2 separate regions of the Homo sapiens genome follow, and region 1 is linked to region 2. The links come from fine-mapping of genetic effects on gene expression. A gene starts in region 2. The other region holds a variant in brackets. All regions are shown on one strand. Distances are from middle to middle. Region 1 overlaps TIGAR (TP53 induced glycolysis regulatory phosphatase). Region 2 holds the start of TIGAR (TP53 induced glycolysis regulatory phosphatase).

What was found. PIP is the estimated chance that this variant, and not a neighbour inherited with it, causes the effect.
Region 1: its variant is fine-mapped to the expression of TIGAR in lymphoblastoid cells (GTEx, PIP above 0.99). The same link has a PIP of 0.9 or more in adrenal gland, anterior cingulate cortex, monocytes, tibial artery, tibial nerve and whole blood.

Annotation. Positions count from the first base shown.
Region 1 is chr12:4,350,805-4,359,143 of GRCh38, forward strand. TIGAR (TP53 induced glycolysis regulatory phosphatase) reads left to right here. Exons shown (of 6, transcript NM_020375.3): 5 at 463-573; 6 at 1,456-8,339. The coding sequence ends at 1,887. Among named protein-coding and RNA genes, the nearest start is that of FGF23, 25 kb to the right of the region's middle. The variant C/T (reference allele first, on the strand shown) is at 3,234.
Region 2 is chr12:4,317,560-4,325,898 of GRCh38, forward strand. It overlaps TIGAR (TP53 induced glycolysis regulatory phosphatase), which reads left to right and starts at 3,654. Exons shown (of 6, transcript NM_020375.3): 1 at 3,654-3,744. The coding sequence starts at 3,713. It also overlaps the pseudogene RPS15P7. RefSeq lists an enhancer at 3,246-3,899 and a silencer at 3,365-3,744.

The DNA of each region.
Region 1 (8,339 bases), 33 kb after region 2:
TAGATCTCTCATGTTAGCGTCTCTGAAACTCAACTTCCTTATAACTATGGTGATATATTTATTTAGCTATTTCATGGTGCTGTCATTGGGATCAAATGGTGTAGTATGTGTGGATGGGAGATGGCTGAATTGGTACCTTGTGCATGTTAATCTCTAGTCCTATAATCTGTGCAAATCTCTGTATTTGTTCAATAAATTCCCACCATCTGCTTGCAATAGCAAGTTCTTCTAAAATAACCCATTTGGACATAGTGTACAACTTAAGATTTCAATTATATTTTCTAAGGTTCATGGCCCTCTACTGAGTACATTCTCATTATCAGTTCAGAGGAGATAGAATCAATTAAGTGGAGGAGAGTTAGCTTATTCCTGGGATGAATGTTCTAAATTTGCCATAAACATAAACTTAATTGTTATATTGCAATTTCATTTGAGAAACTGTTATCTATTGGACTGTTTCAGAAATACGGGGTTGTAGAAGGCAAAGCGCTAAGTGAGCTGAGGGCCATGGCCAAAGCAGCCAGGGAAGAGTGCCCTGTGTTTACACCGCCCGGAGGAGAGACGCTGGACCAGGTATGTGGCGCTGCCGATGTCAGAATGGTTGAATTAAGACTCAAAATTAGATGTTTTGGAATTTTAGCTAAGCAGTTTGAAAGTTGCTTGGTTCATTCTCTTTTCCATTTTAAATTATCTATTTACTTAGCAAATTATTCTTTTCTATTTAAAATCTTATTTACTGTTCAGTTGCCTTTGTCATTATTGATAATGGACTTAAGGAAAGGTGTTATTAGATGGTACTTCTAAAAAAGACCTTTGAATATGAAGCAGTGGCTTAGTGGTGGGAGTGGAGTTCAAAGAGGGTGATCGGCAAGTCACTCGAGGTGAAATAACTCAAAACATGAAGTCTTCAAGCCTCTGCTGCCTCCTCAGCTCTGTTCATGGTGGCATCCCTGTGCTTGCATTTCTTTGGAGTGTTCTGCTTCGAATTGCATATTGGTGATTCCCCCTAACCCACCACCACCTCCTTAATCTTTATCTTAATTTTCTTGAAAATACTTTCCATTACTTTAGTAAGGGAAGGATTTGTTGCTGCTGTTGTTCCAGTGGCACTGAAGTGCCAGAGACAGCTTCCTGGTTAGCACTGTTTTATGAGTTTCTGTTGGCTTGTAGATTTCCCTAACTAGACCGTGAGTGCTTTGAACTCAGGAATTGGGAATTGGATCTTCTTCATCTTGGTCTCCATGGTGCTTTTGTAATTCCAGAAATGTGGTGGATACTTATATATGTCCATGAAACTACTGATTGAACGAATAGAAATGTAGATTGATATTCTTCTGCTTGTGTAGTACTTGGCATTCAATATTAGAAAAAAATCCAGTCAGTTATGTTCTATGTTAACGTTTTAAGGAAGTCATTAATGTCACTTTATTTTGACTTTTATTTCTTTTCTTGTAGGTGAAAATGCGTGGAATAGACTTTTTTGAATTTCTTTGTCAACTAATCCTGAAAGAAGCGGATCAAAAAGAACAGTTTTCCCAAGGATCTCCAAGCAACTGTCTGGAAACTTCTTTGGCAGAGATATTTCCTTTAGGAAAAAATCACAGCTCTAAAGTTAATTCAGACAGCGGTATTCCAGGATTAGCAGCCAGTGTCTTAGTTGTGAGTCACGGTGCTTACATGAGAAGTCTGTTTGATTATTTTCTGACTGACCTTAAGTGTTCCTTACCAGCCACTCTGAGCAGATCTGAACTTATGTCAGTCACTCCCAATACAGGGATGAGTCTCTTTATCATAAACTTTGAGGAAGGAAGAGAAGTTAAACCAACGGTTCAGTGTATTTGTATGAACCTACAGGATCATCTAAATGGACTGACTGAAACTCGCTAAGGTTAAATCTGCATCAAAATCTAACCATTTTGAGCCTCTGAAGGGAGTGCCATTGGCTTTATTTACTTCTCTCCTCTGCTAGTTCTGATTTGGAAACAGTTAAAAGCCAATTTTTAGCTCCAGTGGAACCATAGCCACATAAAACTTTAATGGACAACCATATAGAATTAACTTATTTTGTCCAAGTACAGTTGGCATTTTCCAGAATAATTTTACCACCCTGCTAGATGTCATCTCTGGATTGCACATGGATGATGAAGGAACTCAGCATTGAAAGTTGGGGGATTAGTAACCTTGTTACAACGGTTTCTTTTTCATTTTAGCCTATTTTAATGGCTATTGGTAAGATACTGTATGTTTTTAGTATCTCATCCAGTGCTTAGAAGAAAGAATGGTTTATAATTCCCAGTACATGTTTATATTGACTGTGTTATATTTTTAAATCCTTTAAATAAAAAATCCTTATAAGTTTATGTAAAGCAAAATAACACTAACATGTTTTACGTATAAATCAACTATTGGAATTTTTTATTCTAGAGGGCTTGAAATGTGGATGAATACAGATTATGATTGCAGAATGGTCTGGGGGAAGAAGTTAAAACATTTGATTTAAATACAGTAAAGAAAGAATCTTGGAGCAGAAGATAGAAGAACAGCCTTTTCTAAATAATGCCTTGCCAAAGTCAAGTCAATGGAAACCAGGAAAGCCAAAAAAATGAAGAATATCCACTTGCTTCTTATCTAACCTGTAGGCTGAAGAATTTCCAGTTTGAGGAAGGCTCTAAAGAAAGTAAACAGTTAACAGAACACCACACAGTAATCAGAATAAAAGAGGGGCCTTCTTTGTAAAGAATGGTGCTCTGGGCCGGGCCCAGTGGCTCACACCTGTAATCCCAGCACTTTGGGAGGCTGAGGCGGGCGGATCACAAGGTCAGGAATTCTAGACCAGCCTGGCCAACAATGGTGAAACCCTGTCTCTACTACAAATACAAAAAAGCCAGGCGTGGTAGCAGGCGCCTGTAATCCCAGCTACTTGGGAGGTTGAGGCAGGAGAATCGCTTGAACCCGGGAGGTGGAGGTTGCAGTGAGCCGAGATCGCACCACTTCACTCCAGCCTAGGTGACAGAGGGGATGACAGAGGGTGCTCTGCGGGCAGGGAAGGCGGGGTGGTTGGGGGGGAGAGAATGTTGCTCTGATAACCACAGCTGTGGTTATTTTGTGGCAGGTACAGGTGAGGTTGCCTCTTCTTTCCACCAGATGGCACTGGAGAAAAGGGATTTTGATTAACTTAATTTTATACACAAGATTGGTCTTTCAGAAATCTTTATCTAAATGAAGAAACTGTT[C/T]TACATGTAGTTCGCTTTTAAGTCACCATGTTGCTAAATGCTGTGAGTCTCAACTTTAAAGAGGGTTAATACTAAAGTTGTCAGTTAAGGCTATAGTCACATATAGTCAAAATTTACTTTGACATCATTTTAAATCATATGTAAAATTCAGTATTATATTGTTCTTAGTGTGTCTAGCACTACCAGTTTTCTACCAGTATTGAAACAGGGCACGTGTTTGAGCATCAGAGGAAGTATACTGTAAATAAAAATTTGAAAAATAAGCAAAAAGGACAGACAATAATTATCTCCATTCCCACCATACTGAAGTCATCTTTCCACTTTTTTTTTTAAAGAAACAAAACATAAAGATAAAAGTAGAGTTCTCTTTAACCAGCTCTCACAGTCCTGTTCCCTCCAGAGGCAGCCACTGCAGTGAGTCTGTGTATATGTTCACCTGTTCATCTGCTTGCAATGTTCATCTGTTCCTTATATTTTCACCTAGTGTCTGGAAGGAGATGGTACTGTTTTGGTGCTTTAAAAATAAATATCAAGCCATCTGTGTTCTTTATTTTTACTTATGTCTTGGAGGCATCTCTGTGTTGATATATATAGATCTAGTTAATTATAACCACTCTATTCTATTAAATATAGCACATTTTTGTTTATTAGTGGGCATTTAGGTATATTCAGTTTTTATTTTCTTTGCTTTTTTTCTTTTTTTTTTTTTTTGGAGACAGAGTCTCTCTCTGTTGCCCAGGCTGGGGTGCAATGGCGTGATCTTGGCTCACTGCAACCTCCACCTCTCGGGTTCAAGCAATTCTTGTGCCTCAGCCTCCTGAGTAGCTGGGACTACAGGCATGCACCACCACGCCTGGCCTTTTTTTTTTTTTTAGTAGAGACGGGGTTTCGCCATGTTGGCCAGGCTGGTCTTGAACTTCTGACCTCAGGTGATCCACCTGCCTTGGCCTTCCAAAGTGCTGGGATTGCAGGCATAAGCCACCGTGCCTGGCCTATGATGCATTTTTTTAATATGTGTTCTTAATTTTTAAGACAAACCAATATACCTTATCCTTTATGGGGTTTTTTTGGTGTGTATCTTTAAGAAGACTTCTCTACCATGAGGTCATACAGTAATGTCTTCTTACAGTTTTTGAGAACTTCTGAATGTCAAATCTTGAAATTGAAATTTGCTTTTTATAGTATAAGGTAAGAATTTAATTTTTTTTTTCATGTGGTTGAAACAGTTATCCCAACACCATTGTAAAGGCTGTTCTTTCCCAATTGGTTTGTGGTGTGTGCTCTCAGGCCTCACACCCCCTCATTTGCTAGAGTCTGTGGACTCTTTTAGTTATCTGTGTATTTCCTTATCAGTGTCATACTTAGTTACTGTGGCTTTGCAGCTGACTGTCTTAAAGGGTGGATACCTCCTCTTGTTCATTTTTAAAGTTGTCTTAACTATTTATGCACTTTTATTCTTCCATATAAATTTTGGAATCAATTGGTCAATTTCCAGAAAAATTCTGTTACAAATTTTATTGGAGTCACATGCATCTCTTCATCTATTCAATACGTATTTTTTGAGCATGGCACACACATGCCAGGCTATTTTAAGAACTACTACAACTATGATAAAGCTGTGAATATGTAGCCATGAACCAAAACAAAGTCTCTGTCCTTGTGGAACATTTGTTCTGTCAGAGAAGACAGTGTGTTGGCTCACATTGTGGTCAGTGCTGTTGAGCAAAATAGGTCAGAGTAAGGGGGATGGAGACTGGTGGGAGGAATGCTGCTTTATCCAGGATGGGCAGGGAGGACTCGATGGTGTCAGCACTGAAGGATGTAAGATCTGCTGCTCTGGGGAGAGGAGCAGCATGGAAGGAGTAGAGTGCAGAGGCCATGAGGAAGGATCAGGCTTGACTCCTTTGAGCAAGGGGGATGGGAGAGTGACGGGAGAAGAGGACAGGCCACATGGCCTGGTGGCCTGTGCTGAGGCCTTGGGCTTTTACTCAAGTGAGATGAGATGCCATTGGCCAGTTTGGGCAGTGATGTGATCAGACTTGTTTCAGCAGGACCATCCTGCTTGCAATGTGGAGAGCAGGCTGTAGGGGGTGCTATAGGAGCACAAGGTTGGAGGCAGGGAAGATGGCAGCACTGGCTGTTGGGCCATTTGAAGAAGCAAGGCCAGGGATGTTGGCAGGGACCAGGCCAGAGTGCCTCCAATGGCTAACTAAGGAGCCTGGACATTGAATTTCTAGGTTAGCTTAGGATTTCTCATCCTCCCATCTGTGAATGTCATAGATCTCTCATTTTGCCTGAGTCTTTTATGCAATGATATTTTATTTGTAATATTTTCCCGGTTTTTGATTGTTTTTTAACAAATGAATTTTTTAAGAGACTTAATTTTTTAAGAGAAACTTTAATTTCCCAGCAAAAGTGAGAGGAAGGTAGAGAGATTTCCCATCTATCCCCTGCCCCTACACACGCATTGCTTCTCCTACTATCAACATCCCCCACCAGACCAGTGCATCTGTTACCATCGGTGAGCCCACATTACACTGACATATCCACATCACCTGAAACCCATAGTTTACATTAGGGTTCATTCTTGGTGTTGCATGATCTGTGGGTTTGGACAAACGTATGAAGACATGTATTCCACCATTATAGTATCATGCAGAGTATTTTCACTGCCCTAAAAGTCCTCTGTGTTCCCTGTACTCATCTTTCCCACCTTGTCTTGCCTGTTTCTGTTAGGTTTAGTCCGAGGCCTAGCAGAGGGAATGGGCAGAAGTTTCCAGTTCCAGGCTTCACCCCAGGCTCGCAGCTTCAAGCAGAGCCTGTCGCTTAGGCTCCCTTGCACCTGGAGTCGAAACCATGGCTCCCATTCACCTGTCTCTTATTTTCCTGTCCTTCCCACTCCTCACTCACCTACTATTCATTTCCATTTTTGGATGAGGATTCTCCTTTATTGCTTTTTAACTAAAAACCTGTTTTAGTTAGCATCTTTATTCTAATTTCTTTAAATGCTATGTCATACTCAGCAAGGACATGCTCATATTAGGGGAAGCACATAAAGTAAGATATCCCTGAGAGAACAGTGCATCTCACACCCATTCCATGGCTTAGGCTTATGCAGGAAGTGCAATATTTGGCCATATCACTTAAGTACATATGCTTATATTATGTATACTTGCATGCATATTACATTTACAAGTAGATGAATTCGTGTAAGTTAAATGGTTCTATTATATGTCTTCACTATATTAAGGTCAGTCACAATTTAATTGAAATAGATCATCCTAGGTGAATCCACCTGGCATAATTATCAGCCCTGTTAAGCACAGACACAGGAGATGCAAAGGAAAGAAGTATTCAGTAGAGCGGTGGTGCTGGGCTGAGTACCTGCTATCAGACGCAGCACTTACCAGTTTGGAAATTGAATGGGGCTCCTAGAAAACATCCTTGTTTCATGTAAATGTTGCTTTTTACCCCTCTTTCTTTGGGCCCCATCAATTTGGAAGTACAGCTTTCAGATTGAAGTATGTGTCAGTTCCTTTGTGTCCAAACAAGATGGCTAAGTAGGTCGTCATGACAGGTAACTACCAGTGCTTTAAAAACTTTAGGATTTCCCCCCACAGTTCTCAATCACTTGGTTCATTGTTCAGCAATATGGCCTAAGGGGGTGATTTCTTCATTGATAAGTGACAGGGCAGGGACACTGGAAAGATCTATTGTCAGAAGGCCTGGATTCAGGTTCAAGGCCTGGTTCTTAGTAATTTTGTGACCAAGCAATCGCTGAGGTGGCTGGGCGTGGTGGCTCGCACCTGTAATCCCAGCACTTTGGGAGGCCAAGGCGGGCAGATCACGAGGTCAGGAGATAGAGACCATCCTGGCTAACACAGTGAAACCTCGTCTCCACTGAAAAATAGAAAAAATTAGCCAGGCCTGGTGGCCGGCGCCTGTAGTCCCAGCTACTTGGGAGGCTGAGGCAGTAGAATGGCGTGAACCCGGGAGGTGGAGCTTGCAGTGAGCCAAGGTCGCGCCACTGCACTGCAGCCTGGGTGACAGAGCAAGACTGGGTCTCAAAAAAAAAAAAAAAAAATCATTTGATAAATAATGGGCTGTGCATGGTGACTCAGGCCTGTAATCCCAGCACTTTGGGAGGCCAAGGTGGGTGGATTACCTGAGGTCAGGAGTTCAAGACCAGCCTGGCCAACATGGTGAAACCCTGTCTTTACTAAAAATACAAAAATTAGCTGGGCGTCTCCAAAAAAAAAAAAAAAGAAAAAGAAAAATCACTGAGCTACTGTATCCTCATAGAGAATAATTACAGTAATGTGTATGTGCGTGTGTTTTGGTAATCTTTTATCTTGGATTTATCAAACCTACAGAAAAGTTGCAAGAACAGTAGAAGGAATGGCTGTATACTCTTCACACTTATTCACCACTTGCTTACCTGTTGTCCCACTTGCTTTGCCATTTTTTCTCTCTCCCTCTGTTTTCCCCTGAAACATTGGAGAGTAACTTTGAGTCCTCATACTCTTCCCCTATAAAATTTCAATGTGTGTTTCCTGAGATCAACAATGTTCTTATATATAACCCAGAATAAATATCTGAGTCAGGAAATTTGACATTGATATTGCCTATTAGCTAATCCTTAGACCAAATTTAAATTCTGTCAATTATTTTGTTGATGTACCTGTGGCTTTTTTTTTTTTTCTGAATCAAGAATCCAATCAATCCAGGACTGTGTGTTGTGTTGCATTTAGTTGTCATGTTTCTTCATGTCCTTCCGTCTACTCCTTTGCCTTCCTTTGCCCTTCTTTTTTTCTCCCACCATCTATCTAACCAGATGAACTTTGTCTTTCTTGATCTTGTTACTTTTTAAAAAATAGGTGAGTTCTTGTGGTTTTTTTTCCTGACATATCCTCATTATTAGATTTGGATTGTATACTTTTGTCAGAAGCAGCCCAGAAAGGATGTGTCCTTGGTCATGTCAGGAGGGACAGGACGTTGTATCAATATGTCTGGTTCCTCATTAAATTTGCAACTACTCTTTTAGCCTTTATTGTTTATTTTCTGACTCTGTTTTTTTTTTCTTTAGCCAACTCACGCCATGACTCT
Region 2 (8,339 bases):
GTCTCACTCTGTCGCCCAGGCTGGAGTGCAGTGGCATGATCTTGGCTCTGCAACCTCTGCCTCCCGGGTTCAAGCAATTCCCCTGCCTCAGCCTCCCGAATAGCTGGGATTACAGGCACCTACCACCACGCCCGGCTACTTTTTGTGTTTTAGTGGAGGAGGGGTTTCACCATGTTGGCCAGGCTGGTCTCCAACTCCTGAGCTCAAGTGATCCGCCCGCCTCGGCCTCCCAAAGTGCTGGGATTACAGGCGTGAGCCACTGTGCCTGGCCCAAGAAATGGGAAATTAGTTAACCTGTATGTGCCTTAATTCTTCATCTGTGAAATGGAAATAACTCCTACCTTGCAGAGTTACTGTGTGTATTAAATAAGACAAAATGGGAAGCTGTTTTTATTTAGGCGTTAGAAATGCACTTGGACCACCTTAAAGTGAAAGAGGTTTTACTATACAAACCGGAACTTTCAAGGTATCTGGGACTATGGCAGTTTGAGCGACCAGTGACTGGGTACTCCTTGCATTACTCACTTGTGTCTGTGTCTCTCTGTGTGTCTCTTTGCTTCTTCCATTGACTTTGCTTCTTCGTACCCTCTCCTCTGTTCTCTCACTTGTATTATTTATGGCTTCTGTTTCTTCACAGCTTCAATCACCATGCCCCTTCATAGCCCTAACTCTATCCTATGATTTCTTTCTGTGCTTTCTTTCTGCTTCACCCCTCACAGATAACTACTTAATTTCATTTTTTCAGCTCAAACTTCCAGGAGAATCTGCTGGGATGATTCATTCATTTGGGCATTCAGAACACGGACACGGACACACACACACACACACACACACACACACACACACACACACACACACACACACGATATCTGGGCCCCACTGTTAGGGCCCTCTGAATTATCCCTCCACTCTCATCCTGAAAATGCCTCCTGTTGACCTGCAAGCTGTTAGAGATGCTGAATTTGGTCCCCACTCCAATCTACTAACTCCAGAATCTACATTTTAACACTATGCCCAACTGCTTTGTGTGCACGTTCGAGTTTGTGAAGCATTGCTTTAAACTGCTAGCTCTCAGAACAGCCACTTGTATGTTGGAAACAGCTGGGGATTAAAAGCATACAGATACTGCTGCCTGAGTCTTTCCCCCAGAAGTTCAGATTTGATTTTTCTGGGGTGTAGCCTGGCAAAGGTCTCCAGACGATTCTAATGTAAAGATAGGTTTGAGGACCTCTAAACTAGTTCTGTGTCACCGCTGACCAGTTGTGTGAGCCTAGACAAATCGCTGTCTCTCTCTCGGCCATATTTCTTTTTTTTTTTTTTTGAGATGGGGTCTTGCTCTGTCACCCAGGCTGGAGTGCAGTGTTGGAATCTCGGCTCACTGCAACCTCTGCCTCCCGGGTTCAAACGATTCTCCTGCCTCAGCCTCCCTAGTAGCTGCGACTACAGGCACGTGCCACCATGCCCGGCTAATTTTTTGTATTTTTAGTAGAGATGGGGTTTCACCGTGTTAGCCAAAATGGTCTCTATCTCCTGACCTGCAGATTCTCCTGACCTGCCTTGGCCTCCCAAAGTGCTGGGATTACAGGCGTGAGCCACCATGCCCGGCCATATTTCTCATCTCTAAAGTGAAGATAATGTAGCCTATCCTGTCTACCTTAGAATTGTTCAGAAGGCCAAATGTGATATTACATGTAAGACTGTTTTGAAATGTGTGCCTATGAATCTAAGTATCTCATTCATCTCTTCTCTAAACACATCTTTTCATATATAAGTGGGGATTCAAGGAAATAAATGCATTATGAAATACAAGAATTTAGGTAACAGTGCATGGAAGACAATGTCACCTAGCTAACATTATTGTTACTTGTGTCACATTGCTAGGTACTGCTATCCCAGTTTACCTGTCACAAAACCCAGGGTTAGAGAAGCTCATGTTATAAATAAACTTTCAGTGCCACAAAAGAAATAGCACTCGAATATAAAATTTTCTTTTTAATTCTCAGCAAGGCAAGGTACTTCTATAGAAGGGTGCGTCCTTACAGATGGAGCAATGGTGAGCGCACACTTGGACAAGGGAGGGGAAGGGGTTCTTATCCCTGACGCACGTGGCCCCTGCTGCTGTGTAGTGCCCCACCGCACAGGCTAAACTAATTCCGATTGGCTAATCTAAAGAGAGTGATGGGGGTGAGTGGTTTGGCGGGAAAAACAGTTATGACAGAGCAGGTAATCTGAGTCAGGGTGGCGTAGGTAATGGGAAGGAGTCAGGGTGGAGTAGGTAATGGGAAGGAGTCAGGGTGGAGTAGGTAATGGGAAGGAGTCAGAGTGCAGCAGGTAATCGAAAAAGGTTGTGGCCGGGCGCGGTGGCTCACGCCTGTAATCCCACCACTTTGGGAGGTCGAGGCGGGCGGATCACGAGGTCAGGAGATCGAGACCATCCTGGCTAACACGGTGAAACCCTGTCTCTACTAAAAATACAAAAAATTAGCCGGGCGTGGTGGCAGGCGCCTGTAGTCCCAGCTACTCGGGAGGCTGAGCCAGAATGGCGTGAACCCGGGAGGCGGAGCTTGCAGTGAGCCGAGATCACACCACTGCACTCCAGCCTGGGTGACAGAGCCAGACTCCATCTCAAAAAAATAAATAAATAAATAAAAAAGAGAAGGTTGCTTTAGGAGGAAGTTAAGTTTAAAAGTAAAAAGCAAAGAATTGAACATACTGACATATTGATTCTTTGAAAAGAAATTTAGAACTCATATCTAACATGAAGCAACTCCCTCAACGTTCTGAAGGCTATTAAAGAGAAATTATTCATCTGAGGCTTGTTAAAAACGGCAAGACTTTACTCAAGACTACTGCAATAGGTGAGAGAGACTGAATTCGACTCTAGAATACAACCGGGACCAGTGGAGATTTATAGCCAGGGGGCGGGATGGAAGGGATGAAAGAGAAGATGGGAAATTACCAGAACGTGGTAAGCTATCTGGGGGAGGGGGAGGAGGAACTTTACTAGATATCAAGGGCCTTAGAAGAGAGCATCAACAGTGAGGTCTCTCTTGATAAACAGGCTTAGCAGGATTCTTTGGTAAAACCAGGCTCAGCAGGCCGAGGATGCCGTCTAGTATAGAAAAGGCCTCAAAGGAGCCCGACTAAAGTTTGGTCACGGAGGGCGTCTGTCCCGGCGGAGTTGGGGTGGGTGGGTCTAAGTCTACAGACCTGGCCGACGCTACGTCCCTAAGGTTAGGGACTAACAGACCTCATAGAACACAGTCTGTTGGTCGCTGTACACCCGTGAGGGGTTCATCACAGTGGCCAGCTATAAGACGAACGGTTGCATTCCAGCCTCAATCGCAACAACCACAAATCAGTGCGCCGGCTTCCTTATCTGCCCCGAACGCAGGCTGCCGGCTATCGAGGGAAGGAATCCTACCGCGGACTCCGCGGGCGGGGCCTCCCGCACCTGCCGCGCGCCAATCACAGGCCGGCGCGCAGGGGCGCAAGCGCCGCAGCCCTGGGCGGGGCCCCCGTGGCTCCCTCGTCTCCCCCGCCCCGTCGGCCTCGCCCGGCCCTGAGTGGCCTTCGGGGATGACGTGCGAGGCCGCCTCGGCCTATGGCGGCGGAGCCGGCCGGCTGCTTGGCGGAAGTGGTGTGGGGGAGGTAGCCCGCAGTGCAGGGGCAGCGCGGCGCGGGGCCACCGACGGGACGCGGCTCCGGGAACATGGCTCGCTTCGCTCTGACTGTTGTCCGGCAGTGAGTATGGCTGTGGCAGGATGTCTTTCTCTCTCTCTTCCTTGAGTGTGTTGGAGCGGGTGAAGGGAAAACGGGTCCACCACCCTCTCCCCTCCCTGCTCGCTCCAGCCCGGGAGGGCTGGCTTGGAAGCGCTTTTTCCGGGGCGCTTGCCCTGGGGCCGTCCCGTGTCGCCCCTCCTCTCACCCCAGCAGCCCCGAGGGACGACGGCAGGTCTTAGATAGCTTCGTTCCGTGTTTCAGATAAAGTGAGGCCCGGAGGAGCAAGGGATCGGGGTTCGTAGGCACTTGGTGGCTGCACCAAAAACGGTGCCAGACATGTCCACAGACTTGTCTGGGTACCGATTTTGCTCCCCAGCAGATTGCAAAGAGTTTGCAGAATTGCTCGTCCATGGCTGATGTTTTTGATGCCGGCTGCCTTCCGCTATCCTCTCAGTTTCTGAGGTTCCCCCTCGTTTCCCCAGGCAGTCAGCCCCCCAGGCACATATATGAGACTTCTTTCTTTTCCCCAGAGGTTACAGTTCTGGGAGAGAAAAGAGGATCACAGCTCTGATCTCAGCAGACCGTATCATCCCAAATAAATGTTTTTATTATCATAACGTTACACGGAGCTGCATGCTGATAGGTCTTTATGTATTTGCCAAGTGTTAACGGGAGGTGAAAATCAGGGTAGTTAAGAGCACAGATTTTTATTTTTATTTTTTTTTTTTTGTGAGATGGAGCCTCGCTCTGTCACCCAGGCTGGAGTGCAGTGGCGCTATCTCTGCTCACTGCAACCTCCCGCCTCCGGGGTTCAAGCGATTCTCCTGCTTCAGCCTCCCGAGTAGCTGGGATTACAGGCATGCGCCACCACGCCCGGCTAATTTTTGTATTTTTAGTAGAGACAGGGTTTCGCCATGTTGGTCAGGCAGGTCTGGAACTCCTGACCTTAAGTGATCCGACTACCTCGGCCTCGCAAAGTGTTGGGATTACAGGCATGAGCCACCGCGCCCTGCTAAGAGCACAGATTTTTCAGGCAAGGTAGACCTCGGTTGGAGTCTGTTCTCCAGCTAAGAGCCAGGTAGCCTGGACTTAAGTTTCCTGATATGCAAATGATAGTGCGTATCTCACTACTTTAATGCGAGAATTAAATGGGGGACAGGTAAAGTGTATGATGCAACAGGGAAAGAAATATATCTGAGAAATAACTTCTATAAAGAAAGCTCCAATAAAAGTGCAGTTGATTCCCAAATACGAACGTATAGTTCAGCACACCAGCATTTTGAGTAGGTAATGTGTGCCAGTAGACTGGATCATACAGATAAATAACATACCATTTCTGCATTCATGGAGCTCACAAAGGACATTAATATGATTTAACTTTGTCAATTGACTTTAACAGCTATCTTTTCTGGCCTGTCCTTCCTTTATAAGAAAGATAATCTTAAGAATCCTCTAAAATTGTCTGTTTAGGATTAGCAGGATTTTAATGGCTACCTTAGAAATCTAGTTCCTCACTATCTCTTCTCCCACCCCTCTCGGTTGTATAGAATGCCTTGGGAGAATTCTTAACTTACTAAAGGTCACACAGCTAATCGGTAGCAGAACAGGAACTAGAGGCCTGATCACCCTTTCTTCCAATGTTAGTGCACTTTCTAGACGCCTGACCCAGCCAGCCCAGTGTCATATTTATAATTGAAACTCAGACCATCAAGGTGGTTCACCCCTGTAATCCTAGCACGTTGGGGGGCGGAAGTGGGTGGATCCCTTGAGCACAGGAGTTCAAGACCAGCCTGGGCAACATGGTGAAACCTCCTCTCTACAAAAAAAAAAAAAAAAAGCTGGCTGTGGTGGTGCATGCCTGTGAACCTAGCTAATAGGGAGGCTGAGGCAGGAAGATCACTTGGATCATGTGAGCCTGGGAAGTGAGGGCTGTAGTGAGCTGTGATTGGGCCACTGCACCCCAGCCTAAGCGACACAGTGGGACCCTGTCTCAAAAAGAAAAAAAAGAAAACTCAGAAGTTGTAGAATATTTGGGGTAAGGCAACCCCTAAAAAGTAAGATGATTCCTATTTAGATTCCTAATAGACAATAGTCATATAAATATGGATTTTATTCCCTTTCTGCTGCTTAAAAAGGGTTTGATTCCGGAGGCCCTCATAGGAATCATTTAAAAAATAAGTCTTAATAAATGATTATTTGCCAGGCACTGTTGTAATTAAAATCTGACAGTTTAGTGAGTTAAGGACTGATATCCTCATTTTTCACATGAGGCAGCTGAGACAGAGACGCCTTGTAACTTGCTTAAAGTCACATGGCAAGTTGAGGAAGTAGGAGTTTAACCAAAGCAACTTTACCACTCACCGTCTTTTGTTTCCTACTTAATTTGTTAAAACCCGGTATTTGTAGATTACTTGAACATCACCAGCCATTTTTGAGGCTACTTTTTAGTCTCTTAATATAATTGTGTGGAGTTATGACAATAGTTTATTTTGTTCTGTTTTATGTGTAGGAAGATGGAGTGAGAGGGCTGGTTCAATGCTTTCCGGTCTGGATCCTCCTGCTTCTTGCCTTCAGAGTTCTCAAAACCAAAACCTGGTGATTCTTTCAGGAAAAGAAGTGATTTTTAAATTTGACTCATTATCACCATAGTTAAATGTAATGACTTTTTGAAGAGTTAGATAATTTTATTGGACTTACCTCTTCAGATAATGCAAAAAAATCTTTAAAGCAATTTAAGTTCAACAGAACCTGTTAGGAATCTTGTGCTGTTCCTGTATGTGGTTTATCTTTCTTCATACTTTGAAATGAAAGTACCAGTGTGTATCATTTCTGGAACAGACTGCCCAAGATTCCAGAATTCAAGTCTATCATCATTGTCAGACTATAACTTCTCATGAGCTTATGGCACAGCATTGTTGAAAACTCCAACACGTGTAGGTTGGCATTACCATCACCTATCCAGCACTACTGAAGGGTCTGGTTCCTTGGAATGTTGTAGGTGTTTGCAGTGAGTCCCCGGCAAAACCATCCATTTAACTTCCTTTTTTTTTTTTTTTTTGGAAATATGTGTGCCTTTATTAGCTGAGCCACTACTTGAGGGGGATGAAGCGGGAGGAGTGGGTGGCCCCGATGCCGGGCCGGCAGTGCTTCACCAGCTTATAGGTGATGGAGAACTCGCCCAGGTAGTGACTGATCATCTCCGGCTTGATCTCCACCTGGTTGAAGGTCTTGCCGTTGTAGACGCCCACCATGCTGCCCACCATCTTGGGCAGGATGATCATGTCCCGCAGGTGCGTCTTCACCACTTCCGGCTTCTCCATGGGCGGTGCCTCCTTCTTGGCCTTGCGCAGGCGCTTCAGCAGCGAGTTCTGTTTCCGCCGCAGGCCCGGGTTCACTTGCGGCCGCTGGCACGCACTGTACAGCTGCGTCAGCTGCTCGCAGGACACGTCCCGTCCCGCAGCTGGTCCAAGTCTGTGCCGCGGTAGGTGAGTTTGCGGAAGGTCCGCTTCTTCTGCTCTACCTCGGCCATCTTGTCGGATCCTCAGAAAAGTTCACTTCCATTTTTAGGCAGCTCGTAAAGCTTTAAAATTTTTTGGCAAACTAAATTTAATATACTTTTAATGATTTAAAAATGAATTAGTAAAGTTTTTTTGTTTTTGCTTTTTTTTTTTTTTGACGAAACGGAGTTTCACTCTTGTCACCCAGGTTGGAGTGCAATGGCATGATCTCCGCTCGCCACAACCTCCGCCTCCCGGGTTCAAGCGATTCTCCTGCTTCAGCCTCCGGAGTAGCTGGGATTACAGGCATGTGCCACCATGCCTGGCTACTTTTGTACTTTTAGTAGAGATGGGGTTTCTCCATTTTGGTCAGGCTGGTCTCGAACTCCCGACCTCTGGTGATCCGCCTGCCTCGGCCTCCCAAAGTGTTGGGATTACAGGCGTGAGCCACCCCACCTGGCCGAATTAGTAAAGTTACTGATAGCAAAACTGATTTTTCTTACTGTACTTTTATTGGCAGTTACTTTTTGTGTAATGCTAATAATTGTTCTGTATATTAATAAAGCAAGCAAAATACTATTAGCTCATCTGTAATTTAGTATTTTTATAAAGCTAATACTTTTATAAAATTTTAATGCTCTATAAAAGTATAAAGATACCTTGTACAGATACTTTATAAAGATCAAAGACAGCCGAAAGTCCTGCAATCCCAGCACTTTGGGAGGCCGAGGCGGGTGGATCACCTGAGGCCGGGAGTTCAAGACCAGCCTGGTCAACATGGTGAAACCCCGTCTCTACTAAAAATACAAAAAATTAGCTGGGCGTAGTGGCACTCGCCTGTAATCCCAGCTACTCGGGAGGCTGAGGCAGGAGAATCTCTTGAACCCGGGAGGTAGAGGTTGCAGTGAGCCCAGATTGCGCCGTTGCACTCCAGCCTGGGCAACAAGAGTAAAACTCGTCTCAAAAAAAAAAAAAAAAAAGAAAGACCACCAAAAGTCTTGTGTTACTAGCTCTTGAAATCTTCTATATTTGCAAATGAATGTATTAGTGTAAAGGAATTAGGACTAAGCTGTATTCGTGATATCAGGTGAGGGTTTACATTTTCATTTACACTAAAGA